Linked DNA regions of Homo sapiens: all the other regions are reported to be linked to region 1. The links are microRNA targets in miRTarBase. Many come from high-throughput screens and were not tested one by one. Region 1 holds a microRNA gene; each other region holds the end of a gene's coding sequence.
Evidence for each region. The annotated mature microRNA hsa-miR-383-5p reads AGAUCAGAAGGUGAUUGUGGCU and lies in region 1 at 2,027-2,048, shown strand. An mRNA with a match to its seed (bases 2 to 7 or 8) in the 3' UTR can be bound and repressed. Matches are read on the target gene's strand: a 7mer-m8 pairs with bases 2 to 8, a 7mer-A1 pairs with bases 2 to 7 and ends in A, and an 8mer does both.

Region 2: miRTarBase lists DDIT4 as a target of hsa-miR-383-5p. Seed matches in the 3' UTR shown: 7mer-m8 at 2,556-2,562.
Region 3: miRTarBase lists PCDH11Y as a target of hsa-miR-383-5p. The part of its 3' UTR that is shown has no 7-base or 8-base seed match.
Region 4: the mRNA of ZBTB20 is a reported target of hsa-miR-383-5p. Seed matches in the 3' UTR shown: 7mer-A1 at 1,010-1,016.
Region 5: miRTarBase lists PPP1R10 as a target of hsa-miR-383-5p. Seed matches in the 3' UTR shown: 8mer at 355-362.

The regions. Positions count from the first base shown.
Region 1 is chr8:14,852,531-14,855,530 of GRCh38, reverse strand. MIR383 (microRNA 383) reads left to right here and starts at 2,021; the gene lies at 2,021-2,093. The region is part of intron 1 of SGCZ (sarcoglycan zeta); the gene reads left to right.
Region 2 is chr10:72,275,030-72,278,241 of GRCh38, reverse strand. It overlaps DDIT4 (DNA damage inducible transcript 4), which reads right to left. Exons shown (of 3, transcript NM_019058.4): 3 at 2,206-3,212. The coding sequence ends at 3,054. Among named protein-coding and RNA genes, the nearest start is that of DDIT4, 2.7 kb to the right of the region's middle. RefSeq lists an enhancer at 2,152-2,675.
Region 3 is chrY:5,737,478-5,740,477 of GRCh38, forward strand. PCDH11Y (protocadherin 11 Y-linked) reads left to right here. Exons shown (of 6, transcript NM_001395587.1): 6 at 1-3,000. The coding sequence ends at 465. Among named protein-coding and RNA genes, the nearest start is that of TTTY23B, 500 kb to the right of the region's middle.
Region 4 is chr3:114,335,994-114,339,205 of GRCh38, forward strand. ZBTB20 (zinc finger and BTB domain containing 20) reads right to left here. Exons shown (of 12, transcript NM_001348800.3): 12 at 1-3,212. The coding sequence ends at 3,012. Among named protein-coding and RNA genes, the nearest start is that of ZBTB20-AS1, 14 kb to the right of the region's middle.
Region 5 is chr6:30,598,537-30,601,748 of GRCh38, reverse strand. It overlaps PPP1R10 (protein phosphatase 1 regulatory subunit 10), which reads left to right. Exons shown (of 20, transcript NM_002714.4): 20 at 91-1,336. The coding sequence ends at 200. Among named protein-coding and RNA genes, the nearest start is that of MIR877, 16 kb to the right of the region's middle.

The DNA of each region.
Region 1 (3,000 bases):
GTCAAGGCAGATTTTAAGCTGAACCCCATGACTATAATCTATCCTGCAAGTATGGACACTGTTGAGGGTAAAATGGGGCAATGTTTTGACATGGGAATAGCAAGCATAAATCAGAATGGGCTAGGTATATAGTGAGCACGAAGTACAGAGACTTGATACCCAGATCAAGAATGGAGATGCCGGCTGGGGACAGTGGCTCACGCCTGAAATCCCAGCACTTTGTGAGGCCAAAGCAGGCGGATCACTTGAGGTCAGGAGTTCAAAACCAGCCTGGCCAACATGGTGAAATTCCGTCTCAACTAAAAATACGAAAGTTAGGTGGACATGTTGGCATCCCTTATTCCCAGCTACTCAGGAGACTAAGGCATGAGAATCGCTTGAGCCCAGGAGGCAGAGGTTGCAGTGAGCCAAGATTGTGCCACTGTACTCCAGTTGGGTGACAGAGCAAGACTCCGTCTCTAAATAAATAAATAAATAAATAAAATAATGGAGATGCCTAGGAAGTTGCATCAAAGTTAGATCTTGAGGGAGGTGGGAGAGCATACCAGATAAAGTCGGGAGCGGGATTTCCCAAGAGAGGCCATAGCATGGACCTCTGCATGATTGTTCAGGCCCCTGTGGACATGCTGACATATCTCTGTGAATAGTGGCAGTGCAGCCTTTGATGTCTAGGGTAGCAGAGATTAAAGAGGGCCACTCTCTGCCGGGTTTATATGCCCTGGGAGACTGATCCCAATTGACCTACTCTCTCCTTTCCTCTCTATGAAAATAAAATGATAATAGCAAACTAATTCCTGCTGGTATTCCTGAAATAATCCAACAAAAGTGAAAAAAGAAATCAGAAGGACCAGTAAATCCTTCTTCTCTCTACTGTTTAACACCAAACTATATTACTGTATGTATTCAAAATATCTTATATTTGCAATAATCATATCTACGATGACTATTGAAAAATAATGAAAACCACTGGCTTCCTATTATGAAAACAATATTACACAATGTGAAATTTATTAATTTTATTAATCTAAGAAGTGCCTTAATATTTAGTTGATAACTTATTGACAGTATTTATTGTAAAAATAAATGTGTATATTTTTATCTTTTCTTTCTGCTTTAGATATGTTGTGGAACAATGTTGAGTCTAAATAAACTACAAATTATATATTTTTGATATGTCTATGTATTATCTTATTCAATGAATACAAATTAACTTTTTGTTTTGTGAATTGCGAATGAAATAGTAAAGTGAGTCATTTTGCATATAATGTTGTTAACACCAACTCTGTGTCAAAAGCCCAACATTTACAAGTCAAAAGTTACTGCATTTAAGATGATTACTAAATAGTGAAGATGAGGTAACACAAAAATCAAACTAATAACAATAATGTATTTCAATTTACATTTTGTGACTCTGTGCAAGGAGATATTGTAGCTTTAGACAGAGTATATAAAATTAGAATATATATACAAAAGGATATATATATATATATATATATATATATATATATAATATAATCACATAGAAACTGATGTCGTTACAAAATGAATGACTTAGGAGTAGGCAAATTTCGACCTTTGATATAGGCCTTGAAAGATCCTTGAAAGGTGTGTATTTTGTATTGGCAAGGAGGAAGGAAGGCTTAGGATAAGCTGTAGTCATGTGAAAGCATTGGATATTGGGACTAAATTGGTCTTCTGGTTCATCTGAAGAAAGAACAGAGAAAGGAAAATTCCAACAGTAGTTAGAAAAGCCTTGTTTATTTTTCTCCCTTCCTCTCTCCTTTCCCAAGCGTTTCACTAGGAAAGAAAATAGCTCTTCTATGGTACCCATGTAATACTAATTTCTCAGCGTTGTCATTCTAGGAACTGCCAATGATTGATGACAATCTATTTAGATTCAGTTCTTTAAAGGACAAAGCAAACCACTTCAGTGACTGAATTTTTTTTTAACCTGCAATGTGTATTGTTTGATTATGTTTGCATAATTTATCAAGAGACTTCAGAATCTCCCCGTCACCTGCTCCTCAGATCAGAAGGTGATTGTGGCTTTGGGTGGATATTAATCAGCCACAGCACTGCCTGGTCAGAAAGAGCAAGTGTCCTAGCCTTTACCTCATGAGACCTTGGGTATCCATCCAGCGTAGGTCCCAAGGGAACTGCATTTGGTGGACTGGAGTGGCCAGCATGCTTCAGGTGAGATGAAAAGTGCCATGTTTAACCTGTGTTTGGAAGCTTGTCTTTCTCATAAAATACCTAGTTGTTTCCTCACATGAGCATTTTGATCATTACCTCCTCTTCCCCACTCTTTAACATTTTTATACCATAAAGAGAAAATAACTTGGGATTCCATGCAGACATTTGAAATTCATGGGCAAAATCTTCAAACTGCAAATAGTACAAGTTTTATATGCATGCTTTAATTTGACTTTCTTCAAATATGAATGCTGCTATAATGCACACATGCAAAGGCCGCTATTGGAATATACTTTCTATGTATCCTCAGAAGCAGAGCTGGCCTCTGGCTGGTAAGTGTGGCTGCCTCATCAGCAGTATATATCTGATCATCTCAACAGTGTTTTCCATTCCTAGTAAAGGAAAAGCCCCATAGAAATAGTAACATATGTGTTTAGGAGCTAACGCTTCAGGAGAGTTTAGACGAGGAGATTCTGGGAACAATACCACAGGAATCCAGGAAAGACTTTGATGCAGAGAAAGGCTATTACTCCATGAAACACTACAGATGGGAGGTGAGCCAAAGAAAATTTTTTGTACTTTGCAATGTTTCCTTAATATGGTCCTGCTCCAACATAATGTAATTATACAAGCTGTGGTTGCCAAAAACTAAATATGAACAAAAATGGAAAAGACAAGATGTTTGTAGGGGAGACTATAGGCATCTGGCGTGCAGGGAAAAAAGTCAATAAATTGTTCAACTGAGGTGAAAATTAATTCTAGAATATTTTCAGGCAATTGTTGGTAGGGTGTTTGTTACTTTGGGCT
Region 2 (3,212 bases), not on the chromosome of region 1:
TTGACCCGATGAGGTGGGAAATAGGAATAAGAGAGGGAATCCTGTAGGAAGGGAGGTAATCAGTACATATTTTCCAGGCCAAATAGGGCAATCTTTTTCCTTTCCTTTCCTTTTTCCTTTCCCCTTTCCTTTCCTTTCTTTTTTTTCTTTCCTTCCTTTCTTTATCAGATAGGGTCTCACTAAATAGGACAATTTCTGAAAGCATTTACCAAAGTTGATTTTATGTGTAGGTCTTTATAAGCTTTCTTAGCTTTCCTGCTTAGCAACAAAGAAGCCTGCCCCATTTTTTCTTAGCAAGTCCGGTACCTGGGGCAAAGCTCCCTGCCATGTCTTAGCAGACCTCAGGACCCAGAACTGTCTTGGGCCTCAGCAACCCTCTTCCCTTTACTGTGAGACTCAAGCTCAGGGCTCCCACTTGCGGACCCTTCTGTCCTGCTGCAGGAGGATTTTCAGGCCCTGTGAGAATGAGGGAAGCCAGTTTGGCTCTGGGAGAGGGCATCTCAGCTGAGCTAGCTTGGGAACCCAAGCTTTGATTTGGCCTCAGTCTGACTATCTAAGAAAAGGTACGGTGCTGGGCTCAGCTGCCTCCTTGGCTTGGAGAAGGGCTAATGCTGACCAATCCATCCAGCTCAGGCCCCCAAATACCAACAAGACTCTGTACTCTGAAGACAATTGTTTCCTTGCTTCTCTTTTGAGACTGGGGAGGCAGGGTCGTGAGCATTGGCACAGATCTCAGTTCCCGGGAAAGTGCCCTTCAGACTCAGCCCAGGTGTCAAGCTTGCTTTACTCCCAGCCCTGAATCTCAATAGGCTGGGAGTGGACAAAGTCAGCCCTTATCCAAGAAGATGACCATTCCAGGGCTTGGGCCTCCATTTACTAATCTGTAAAACATTAAAAACCCCTGCCGCCACCCACCCCTCACAGGGTGGCTATTAGGAGGATGTGCTAAGAAAATGGGTGTGAGGGCTTTCCTCACACTGGTCTGGGCACCTTCTTCACTGTTCTCACTATCCATTTCCAAATGCACTTCTAATCCAAGTTTATCCATTTTGGGGAACAAATCACTCAGTTCTACCAAAGAGAGATGGGTCTTCCAAGTCATCGTAAAGTTTAGGACCCTCTATTGGAATCCCTGATGTAAATGCAGATTCCTGGGGCCCTGGCCCGGATGCACTGAGAATCTCCAGGAGGGCCCATGTGATCTGATTACACACGCTCAAGTGCAAGAGCCACTGTTTTAGTCTTGAGCAAACAAGGCCTGTCTGGGACCAGGAAGAGAAACAAGGGAGATAAAAACTCTCCAAATGCCAGTTGGTGTGGGTGGATGTAATTCCAGGGAAGAAGGGGGAAAGGCCCTGGGCTTCATCTGGCCCAACTCCAATTTGCCAATTTTTCTGACAAGGAACTTAGGGCCCAGAATGCACAATGCATCTTTTGTTTTTAGAGACAGGGTCTTGCTGTCACCCAGGCTGCAGCCTTGAACTCCTGGACTCAAGCAATCCTCTGGCTTCAGCATCCCAAGTGGCTGGGACAACAGGTCACAGAGGACGTCTGGGTGACCCAAGGTATCGTTAAGGTAGGCCTGCTATTTCCTTGCTCTCTAAGCCCTTAGCACTCCTTCCCTCACCTGTGTGTGTGCAAGGAGTTCTGCACCTGCCTGGTCCAGACTTCCTTCCAGTGGCAGCTCATGCCCCTCTTGGTTCCTTGTCCAGTGAGAGGCATGAGCTAAGTAGCATTTTTCAAACTCCCCCTCTTAGTCTTTTTAAATCCAGAGATAAGATTTGTAATTTTCATGATGGTAGAACAACTGATTTTTTTCTCCCAGAAAGAAAAAAGGTATTTTCTAGTTCTTTCACTGTTTATTAAAGACCTTGGGCTCAGTGGGCCCTCCTGTCTGGGCCTTCTAACCGGGGCAGCCAGGTGAGCTCTCCCTCTGGAGACTCTGGCTCGGTGGGAGGTCTGACTCACCCCCTACCTTCAGGGGTTTCCAGTGTGTTCTCCTAGTAGCTTCAGCCAGCACAGGGCCAAGGGTTCTTGGCACAGATGGCACACGGTACACATACCTCTGTCACCAGGCTGGCAGGCAGTCCCGGAAAGGGATGGAGGAACACACAGGTGGACCCCAGGGCCTGATGAGACCTGCCTTTCACTAGCACCCATCTCCCTCCTTTTCACTTCATGGTACTGATGAGAGACTCAACCAACTGTTTTAACAAACATGTTTATTAGAAAAGTAAAAAATATTGCATAGGTCTTAATACTTGAACATCAAGTGTATTCATGAACAGTGAGTATCTTATCTTCATGTAAACAGTTCTAGATGGAAGACCCAGATGGCACTCCTCCCGGGGAGGGGTTCCAGCCCCCACCCTCTCAGCCCCTCCCCTGCCAGCTCAACTCTGCAGTACACGATGGGGGAAGGCTTAAACGCAGCTGCCAGGTGTAATTTTTCAAGTGTCAAAGATCCCAAGTGATCCCTGACACCCACCCCTTCCTACTCTTACATTCATGCGTCTGTAAGATAGCTGCCTACAACAGGTCAGTAGTGATGCTCCGATCAGAAAAACAAGATACAAAACAAACAACAAACACACTTGGTCCCTTCAGACCAGTAAGATACACAAACCACCTCCACGACCTCCGACCTCCCCCCTCCCTCCGGCTGCTCTGAGGAGCACGTGCCTCTTCCTTCACCCTGGGCCGGGCTGGGGCGGGAGCAGCCCAGCTGCTCTCTGGATGTCACACCACTGTTAACTGTCAGTAACAAAAATAATAAGGTACATGCTACACACACATCCAGCTGGAAGCCTTGTTGGCCCCTAAGCCTTTGTTTCATGCTACAGTACTGAGGGGTATGTGTCCCCAATGCACAGCCACCCGCACACAACTCAATGAGCTTCCTGGGAAACACTATTCCCCCACCTCCACCTTAGGTGGCTGCCTCAGTTTTCCAACCACAGGAATCAGTCCCTCAGCTCCTGCCTCTAGTCTCCACCCCAAAAGTTCAGTCGTCTCTGTCTTGGAGGGCACTGTCGGCCCCCTCAGGTTGAAGTTCAACACTCCTCAATGAGCAGCTGTTCCGAGCTGTACAGCTTCTTCTTGATGACTCGGAAGCCAGTGCTCAGCGTCAGGGACTGGCTGAAGCCAGGGAGGAAGGGAGAGTTGGCGGAGCTAAACAGCCCCTGGATCTTGGGCCAGAGTCGTGAGTCCAG
Region 3 (3,000 bases), not on the chromosome of region 1:
GTTCTCTGCCACAGCCCTCCAGTGACACAGACCATCGCATTGTGCCACAGCCCACCACCGATACAGGTGTCTGCTCTCCACCACAGTCCTCCTCTAGTGCAGGGTACTGCACTTCACCACAGCCCACCATCAGCACAGGCCTCAGCCCTCTGCTACAGCCCTCCTTTAGCACAGGCTGCTGCAATCAGCCACAGCTCTTCTCTGCCACAGGTTATTGCCCTCCATCGTAGTCAGGCCCAATCATCAGTCAGTTTGCAGCAAGGTTGGGTGCAAGGTGCTAATGGACTATGCTCTGTTGATCAGGGAGTGCAAGGTAGTGCAACATCTCAGTTTTACACCATGTCTGAAAGACTTCATCCCAGTGATGATTCAATTAAAGTCATTCCTTTGACAACCTTCGCTCCACGCCAACAGGCCAGACCGTCCAGAGGTGATTCCCCCATTATGGAAACACATCCCTTGTAAAGCTAAAATAGTTACTTCAAATTTTCAGAAAAGATGTATATAGTCAAAATTTAAGATACAATTCCAATGAGTATTCTGATTATCAGATTTGTAAATAACTATGTAAATAGAAACAGATACCAGAATAAATCTACAGCTAGACCCTTAGTCAATAGTTAACCAAAAAATTGCAATTTGTTTAATTCAGAATGTGTATTTAAAAAGAAAAGGAATTTAACAATTTGCATCCCCTTGTACAGTAAGGCTTATCATGACAGAGCGTACTATTTCTGATGTACAGTATTTTTTGTTGTTTTTATCATCATGTGCAATATTACTGATTTGTTTCCATGCTGATTGTGTGGAACCAGTATGTAGCAAATGGAAAGCCTAGAAATATCTTATTTTCTAAGTTTACCTTTAGTTTACCTAAACTTTTGTTCAGATAATGTTAAAAGGTATACGTACTCTAGCCTTTTTTGGGGCTTTCTTTTTGATTTTTGTTTGTGGTTTTCAGTTTTTTTGTTGTTGTTAGTGAGTCTCCCTTCAAAATACACAGTAGGTAGTGTAAATACTGCTTGTTTGTGTCTCTCTGCTGTCATGTTTTCTACCTTATTCCAATACTATATTGTTGATAAAATTTGTATATACATTTTCAATAAAGAATATGTATAAACTGTACAGATCTAGATCTACAACCTATTTCTCTACTCTTTAGTAGAGTTCGAGACACAGAAGTGCAATAACTGCCCTAATTAAGCAACTATTTGTTAAAAAGGGCCCCTTTTTACTTTAATAGTTTAGTGTAAAGTACATCAGAAATAAAACTGTATCTGACATTTTAAGCCTGTAGTCCATTATTACTTGGGTCTTTACTTCTGGGAATTTGTATGTAACAGCCTAGAAAATTAAAAGGAGGTGGATGCATCCAAAGCACGAGTCACTTAAAATATCGACGGTAAACTACTATTTTGTAGAGAAACTCAGGAAGATTTAAATGTTGATTTGACAGCTCAATAGGCTGTTACCAAAGGGTGTTCAGTAAAAATAACAAATACATGTAACTGTAGATAAAACCACATACTAAATCTATAAGACTAAGGGATTTTTGTTATTCTAGCTCAACTTACTGAAGAAAACCACTAATAACAACAAGAATATCAGGAAGGAACTTTTCAAGAAATGTAATTATAAATCTACATCAAACAGAATTTTAAGGAAAAATGCAGAGGGAGAAATAAGGCACATGACTGCTTCTTGCAGTCAAGAAGAAATACCAATAACACACACAGAACAAAAACCATCAAAATCTCATATATGAAATAAAATATATTCTTCTAAGCAAAGAAACAGTACTATTCATAGAAAACATTAGTTTTCTCCTGTTGTCTGTTATTTCCTTCTTTTATCCTCTTAACTGGCCATTATCTTGTATGTGCACATTTTATAAATGTACAGAAACATCACCAACTTGATTTTCTTCCATAGCAAAACTGAGAAAATACCTTGTTTCAGTATAACACTAAACCAAGAGACAATTGATGTTTAATGGGGGCGGTTGGGGTTGGGGGGGAGTCAATATCTCCTATTGATTAACTTAGACATAGATTTTGTAATGTATAACTTGATATTTAATTTATGATTAAACTGTAATTTTGTAACATAAACTGTGGTAATTGCATAATTTCATTGGTGAGGATTTCCTTTGAATATTGAGAAAGTTTCTTTTCATGTGCCCAGCAGGTTAAGTAGCGTTTTCAGAATATACATTATTCCCATCCATTGTAAAGTTCCTTAAGTCATATTTGACTGGGCGTGCAGAATAACTTCTTAACTATTAACTATCAGAGTTTGATTAATAAAATTAATTAATTTTTTTTCTCCTTCGTGTTGTTAATGTTCCAAGGGATTTGGAGCATACTGGTTTTCCAGGTGCATGTGAATCCCGAAGGACTGATGATATTTGAATGTTTATTAAATTATTATCACACAAATGTGTTGATATTGTGGCTATTGTTGATGTTGAAAATTGTAAACTTGGGGAAGATTAAGAAAAGAACCAATAGTGACAAAAATCAGTGCTTCCAGTAGATTTTAGAACATTCTTTGCCTCAAAAAACCTGCAAAGATGATGTGAGATTTTTTCTTGTGTTTTAATTATTTTCACATTTTCTCTCTGCAAACCTTTAGTTTTCTGATGATCTACACACACACATACACACACACACACACACACGTGCACACACACACATTTAAAGGATATAAAAAGAAGAGGTTGAAAGATTATTAAATAACTTATCAGGCATCTCAATGGTTACTATCTATGTTAGTGAAAATCAAATAGGACTCAAAGTTGGATATTTGGGATTTTTCTTCTGACAGTATAATTTATTGAGTTACTAGGGAGGTTCTTAAATCCTCATATCTGGAAACTTGTGAAGTTTTGACACCTTTCCTATAGATATAGGAATGAACCAATACGCTTTTATTACCCTTTCTAACTCTGATTTTATAATCAGACTTAGATTGTGTTTAGAATATTAAATGACTGGGCAC
Region 4 (3,212 bases), not on the chromosome of region 1:
GAAACAGAAAGCTACACGTGGCCCATAATGGCACCTAAGATCAACTTTTCAGGCGGTATTAGTGAAAATTCTTCCTACTTTGCTAAATTTGAACAAAGACACTTTCAAATCTACTGTGAAACAGTTTAAAATATTTTAAAGTGGCTTTTGGCCTTCTTTCATTTGTAACATGTATTGAGTGATTTCATGTCATTGTCTCCTAGCTTTAAGAGTTTTTTTCTTAAGGTCAATCTTCTCTTTTCATTTTATGGGTGGAATCACTTGTTTTCCAAAATATCAAAACAATTCCATGACATAGTTAATTAATGCTCCCTCTATTGGTGGTAAGTGGAAATATTAGTCTTACAACACTGCTATTTTAAAAAGCAAAATTAGCAATAGAAAAATGAACTTACTTTATCTCGGAAGCTGTTCCTCACTAACTGTTAAAACAGATCAGTTTTGGACATACAGTTCTTGGCAGGACTCCTCTTAGAAATCACAATAGGTTACACTTAATAGTCAGTTAACCACCCAAGTTTACATTAAAACTTCTAGCAAAATATCCACTGAATTAAGCACTGTGGGACCAAATCAAACTCACAAACACTTCAGTTACACTAACCTTACAAAGCATCACAAAGAACTTATGAAAAAGATCCAAGTTAACCAAATGTCTAAAATATATGAATAAAACCAATTTAGTCATTACAGAGTTGTTTGTGTTGGAAGATTTTCCCTCGTTTGCTGCACAGTTTTTGTAAATAAAATGCTGACAGGAAAATTAGAAGGAAAATTAAATTAAAATGTAATGTAATTTTGAAACTAAAATACGCTCTCCTTTCTTCTTTTTAAAACTGTAGTTTGGTGTTTTGCTTTGTTTAAAGATTTGCTTTCCCCTAAGTATGTTAAAATATGCCCAGCAATGAAATCACTTTGGGAGTTTCAGCTAGGTTTAAGAATTCCTATATTTGAGCTGGAATCCCTTCAGGACACTGTCTATAATGAAAATGTCTCTATTATAACACCTTGATCAGGACCGAGGAGAGAAATCCCTACTAGGAAGAGAGAGTGGCATCTGGTATGATGCAATAGATTGGTGGTCTTTTGAATGGTGGCTGTTGGCATCTGGGAATTTTTTTGTTAATTTCCCTAAAACCTTTCGAAGAAGCAAGGGTTAATTCGTCATCTAAAGAATGATCATCTTATTCAGCCCTCTTAACCATGGTGGAAACAGTCAGAAGGTGATATTTGGAAGGAAAAAAGTAATTTTGGCATCAATGCATCTTGATCTATAACAGGCTTCTCATAATGATGCTCTTTGTAGTTGGGAAGGGTGAGGAGCTATGGCAGAGTTTTGTGAACTCCTCTTCCTGGCTGATCACAAAAGAAAAGACCCCATTTATCAAGACTTCTAGACTATTAGTGTTTCACTAAGAAAAAAAGTAAAGTCAATAGAAATTCTAGAATTGTAAGATCTCAATGAAATTTTGGAGAAGCAAGCAATCTCTTTCTGAAAGATAAAGTCTCTTCCATGAAAAAGAACAGAATTCTAGATGAATCAGTTGAAAAAATTATTCAGTGGGGCAACTTAAGCTTGCTAAAGTCAAAGAACTACATATCAAAATACAAAGCAGCAATTCAAATTACAGCAGGGATGGGCTGGCCACAGAGGCCCTCATCAACCCAGGCAATACTTAAAATAATAAAAATTAAGAAAAATTAAAAAAAATATGAAGAAAATATCCTTCCTCTCTTTCAAATATAACTTTAGTTGCCTTTTATTCTTTCTATCTGGAAGCAGTATCGCTAACCTTAACAGTCTTGACTTACCAAAAAATATATATATGTGTGTGAAATAAAATAAAAGAGAAGGAATTGGTGGCAGTGTATGCAAAACCAAAATGAAAAAAATTACTTTTAACAATTTCACTTTTTTTGTTTTTTTTTTTACACAAATACTGTTGTAAATATATTAAAAAAATCAGCATTCTATCTGGTAAACGTCACTTTTGCCCCTCTATAAAATTTTGAATTAAAAAAGCCTCAAGAACTTTTTATTGTTCCCCCCACCCTCCATTTCTTTTTCTTTTTCTCTTCCACAAGAATATATCCTGACACTTTTTTTTTTTTTGCAAAGATTGTTGGAAATAATCCTTCTCTTGTACCTAGAAACATAGGTGCAAATTTCTGATATCTTTGTTTTATCTGCATTCCTGCCTTTCATGAAAGTCCCTCTTGATTGTGCTGAGGCTGTGGCTCAGCGAAGACACTGAATAAATACGATAGCCACTGTTGCTTGTTGCTTGTCCAAGTCTTCCTGGCTTCTGCTGCAAGAGGGGGATATGGAGAAGGTGGGCCAGGGTGTGTGGACCCGGGCAGAATCTGGGGAAGAAGCCTGCCATTCGTCTTTCTTTCCCACACCACCGAACCCACTGCCCTTCCCACCCCCACAGCCCTTTTATGAAATCAGACAACGTGGTAGGTGGAAAACAGCAGGGCCTTTCCTCTGGGTTTTCAACCAGAAGTGATATTCCACAGTTTTAACTGGTTACTGTGAAGTCCAAGCGGCCAGAATTGTGAAAATGTCCACTGAAACACTGCAAGCGGTGTACTTAAAGACAGTAGGCCTTTTAGATTTTGTTATATATTTTTTGTAGTGCTCTTCACAAGTGGAAATTTTTTTTTTTTTTTTACTTTTTTTTAAAAGATTTTTTTGTAAAGAAGGGTTGTATTTAGAGGCCAGTAGCTAGAGATCCAACCAGTGGACCTCTTGAAGCACTACCAGGCCTTAAGGCCACCATCCGAGGGAGACTGGGAAAACTATTATTCACCCAAGCCTCCGGAAATGTAATGTACCAGCAGGCAAAAAACAGTTCTTCATGTAGTACAAAATGAAACGAAACAAAAACAAAAACAGAAAGTAAAAATGAAACCAAAACATTTCTTAAATTCTAGTGCCATAGCTTTTTTGTTTGTTTGTTTTTTGTTGTTGTTTTGTTTTGTTCATAAGAAAGAGAGAAAGATACTACTTATCCGTCAGACACATGCATCCTCATGTGGTCGTTGAACTGCTCGATTTGGTCAAACTTTGCTGGGCAGACGGAGCAGACGTAAGTGGTCCCCTCCGTGCAGGCCACCACGCCTGGGGGGCCAGCGCGGGCACCTGGGGGTGTGCCTGCAGGGGGGGTCCCATTGCTGGCACTGTGCAGGGCCACGTGTCGCTCCAGGAG
Region 5 (3,212 bases), not on the chromosome of region 1:
CAGTTCTCAGGATGTCATGGACAAGGGGTGGTGAGGGTGGCATTGCCCTCAGCTATTTCCTGTCTAACTGTTTTGCCATCGTTCCCACAGACATGTCAAACCGCCCTGTCTGCCGACATTTCATGATGAAGGGCAACTGCCGCTATGAGAACAACTGTGCCTTCTACCACCCGGGTGTCAATGGGCCCCCCCTGCCCTAGGGACCATTTGCCTGCCCTGTTCACACAACCCCTGTGGACTGCAGCCTCGCTCTTTCCACCCTGTTATGGCTTCTGTGAGGCCCATTTTCCCTTTTCCCCAGCTGATGAGGAGCCGGCCCCCTCAGTTCCCACTTGCTTGGGTTCCTGGGGGTTTTCTGATCACTGGTGCGCATTGATGTACATATTTTCCTCCAGTCTGGGGAGGAGAGAGACTGGAAACGTTCCTGGACTGCTGAAGAGGAGACCCAGTTGGCTTCACTTTTTGAGAAGATTCGCCCTGTACCCCAAACCCCTTTCCAGTATTACCCTTAATGCTTGAGAACCTAAAGCTGGTTATCCTGGCGAACACCCCTACCCTTCTATTGCGGGTCCCCACATGCACACAGAACTCTGACACAGGATCAGCTGCACTTAAGAAATCATCCCAGCTAAGTTCATTATTCCTCATGGGGTGGGGAGATGCTGAAAGGGGTATTGTATATCCCACTGCACTGAGAGGGCTCAATCAGCTGGATTTGAGTTCTGGAACACACATCATCCCCACCCCTCCCCCAGCGTGGGCTCACCATTCTTAGTCCTTTCTCAAGTGGGACCTTCAACTTTCTGTGAACACCCAGTCTGCGTCCTGGGTCTGCTAGGTTCGATGATGGCGAACTCGTATCTGCATCCGGTGCAAGTTTTAGCTGGCAGAGGTGAGACCGGTGGTGCTGGTCTGCCTTTGCCAACTATAGCCAGTCTGGAGACTTGATAAAATACTTCAGTGAGACCAGCTTCTCATCAACTTGGGCCCGGCGTGCTGGGCCTGAAAGTCACACTACATGCACTGCCTTTGGGAGTCAGCTCACTCCCTGCTCCCACCTGGAACCTTGCCAGCGTGAAGGAGGCTTCCAGGTACTTCACCCTGTCAACCACCTCTGAATCCCCACCAGGCGCCTTCCTGGGTGGATTCAACAAGATGATTTTGCCCTTTCCCAGTTCTCTCCTTCACTTTGGCATCAGTTGTTTTCTATGAAAACAGTGGATTGGTTGGGTTTTGTGCAGGGTCTTGGGTTAGAGCCAAAATGGATTTGAGGATGAGTATTTTTTTTTTTGGTTTTGTATATTTTGTACATTAATAATAAACAGTGGAAAGAGAAGCAGCTTATTTAACCCCTAGTGTGTTTGGACTTTTTTGAGACGGAGTCTCGCTCCGTTGCCTGGGCTAGAATGCAGTGGTGCAGTCTTGGCTTACTGCAATCTCTGCCTCCTGGGTTCAAGGGATTCTTCTGCCTCAGTCTTCTGAGTAGCTGGGATTCCAGGCACCTGCCACCATGCCTGGCTAATTTTTTTGTATTTTTAGTAGAGACTTGGTTTCACCATGTTGGCCAGGCTGGTCTGGAACTCCTGACCTCGTGATCTGCCCGCCACGGCCTCCCAAAGCGCTGGGATTACAGGCGTGAGCCACCGCGCCCGGCCTGGACTGTTTTTCATTTTTTTTTTTTTAAAAGCCATTACCACCTGTGTTAGATACATTAGTACAAATCTGTGGAATCTGATTTTTACTCCTCTGGAGCTAATGCTTGATCTAACAGTTGCTATTAAGTACTGGTGAAAAAATGCTTCAAAAAGTACATAAAATACTCTAGGATACAGAGTAGATCTCGGCCACAGGGCTCTTTCCTGGTTTTCATCTTTCTGAGTCTTCTTTAACACGCCTCGTGTGTGTTCCTAGAACAGTCCTATCCTGGCTATCGTGCCCTCTAGGATGTGTTCTTGGTCATCTTATCCACATTCTACAGATAAGGGAGGAAATCCTGAGGATGCTGGAGTCAGATAAAGGCCATTGTCCCAGCTCTACCTCTCTACAGCCTGGGTGACCTTAGCCAGGTTAGTGTTGGGTATCAGTGGCTCATGTCTGTAATCCCAGCACTTTTGGGAGGCCGAGGTGGGAAGACTACTTGAGCCCAGGAGTTTGAGACCAGCCTGAGCAACATAGGGAGACCAGGTCTGTACAAAAAATACAAAAAATATTAGGCATGGTGGCACATGCCTTTAGTTCCAGCTACCTGGGAGGCTGAGGCGAGAGGATCACTTGAGCCTGGGAGTTCAAACTCACAGCTATGATTGTACCACTGCAATCCAGCCGGAGCAACAGAGCAAGACCCTGTCTCAAAAAAAAAAAAAAAAAAAAAAAGCCAGGCATATTGGGTCATGCCTGTAATCCCATCACTTTGGGAAGGCGAGGTGGGTGGATCACCTGAGGTCAGGAGTTGGAGACCAGCCTGGCCAACATGACAAAACCCCGTCTCTACTAAAAATACAAACATTAGCTGGGTGCCTATAACCCAGCTACTCCGGAGGCTGAGGCGGGAGAATCCCTTAAACCCAGGAGGTGCAGGTTGCAGTGGGCCGAGATCATGCCACTGCACTCCAGCCTGAGTGACAGGGCAAAATTCCGTCACAAAAAAACAAAGGGTAAGTATAGACTGCTCTTCCCAAAGTGGCTCTGGCCAGGCATGGTGGCTCAAGCCAGTAATCCGAGCACTTTGGGACGCCAACATGGGAGGATCACTTGAACCCAGGAGTTCAAAACTACCCTAAGCAACATAGGGAAGCTCCATTTCCCCATTTCCGCGCCTGGCCTCCACTCTTCTTAAACCAGAAATTAAAGCTGGGCATGTTGGCTCACGCCTGTAATCCCAGCACTTTGGGAGGCCCACATGGGACGATCACTTGAACCCAGGAGTTCAAAACTACCCTAAGCAACATAGGGAAACTCCATTTCCCCATTTCCGCGCCTGGCCTCCACTCTTAAACCAGAAATTAAAGCTGGGCGTGGTGGCTCACGCCTGTAATCCCAGCACCTTGGGAGGCCGAAGCAGTTGGATCACCTGAGGTCAGAAGTTCGAGACCAGCCTGGCCAACATGAAGAAACCCCATCTCTACTAAAAATACAAAAATTAGCTGGGTGTGGTTACTGGCGCCTGTTATCCCAGCTACTCGGAAGGCAGGAGAATCGCTTGAACCCAGGAG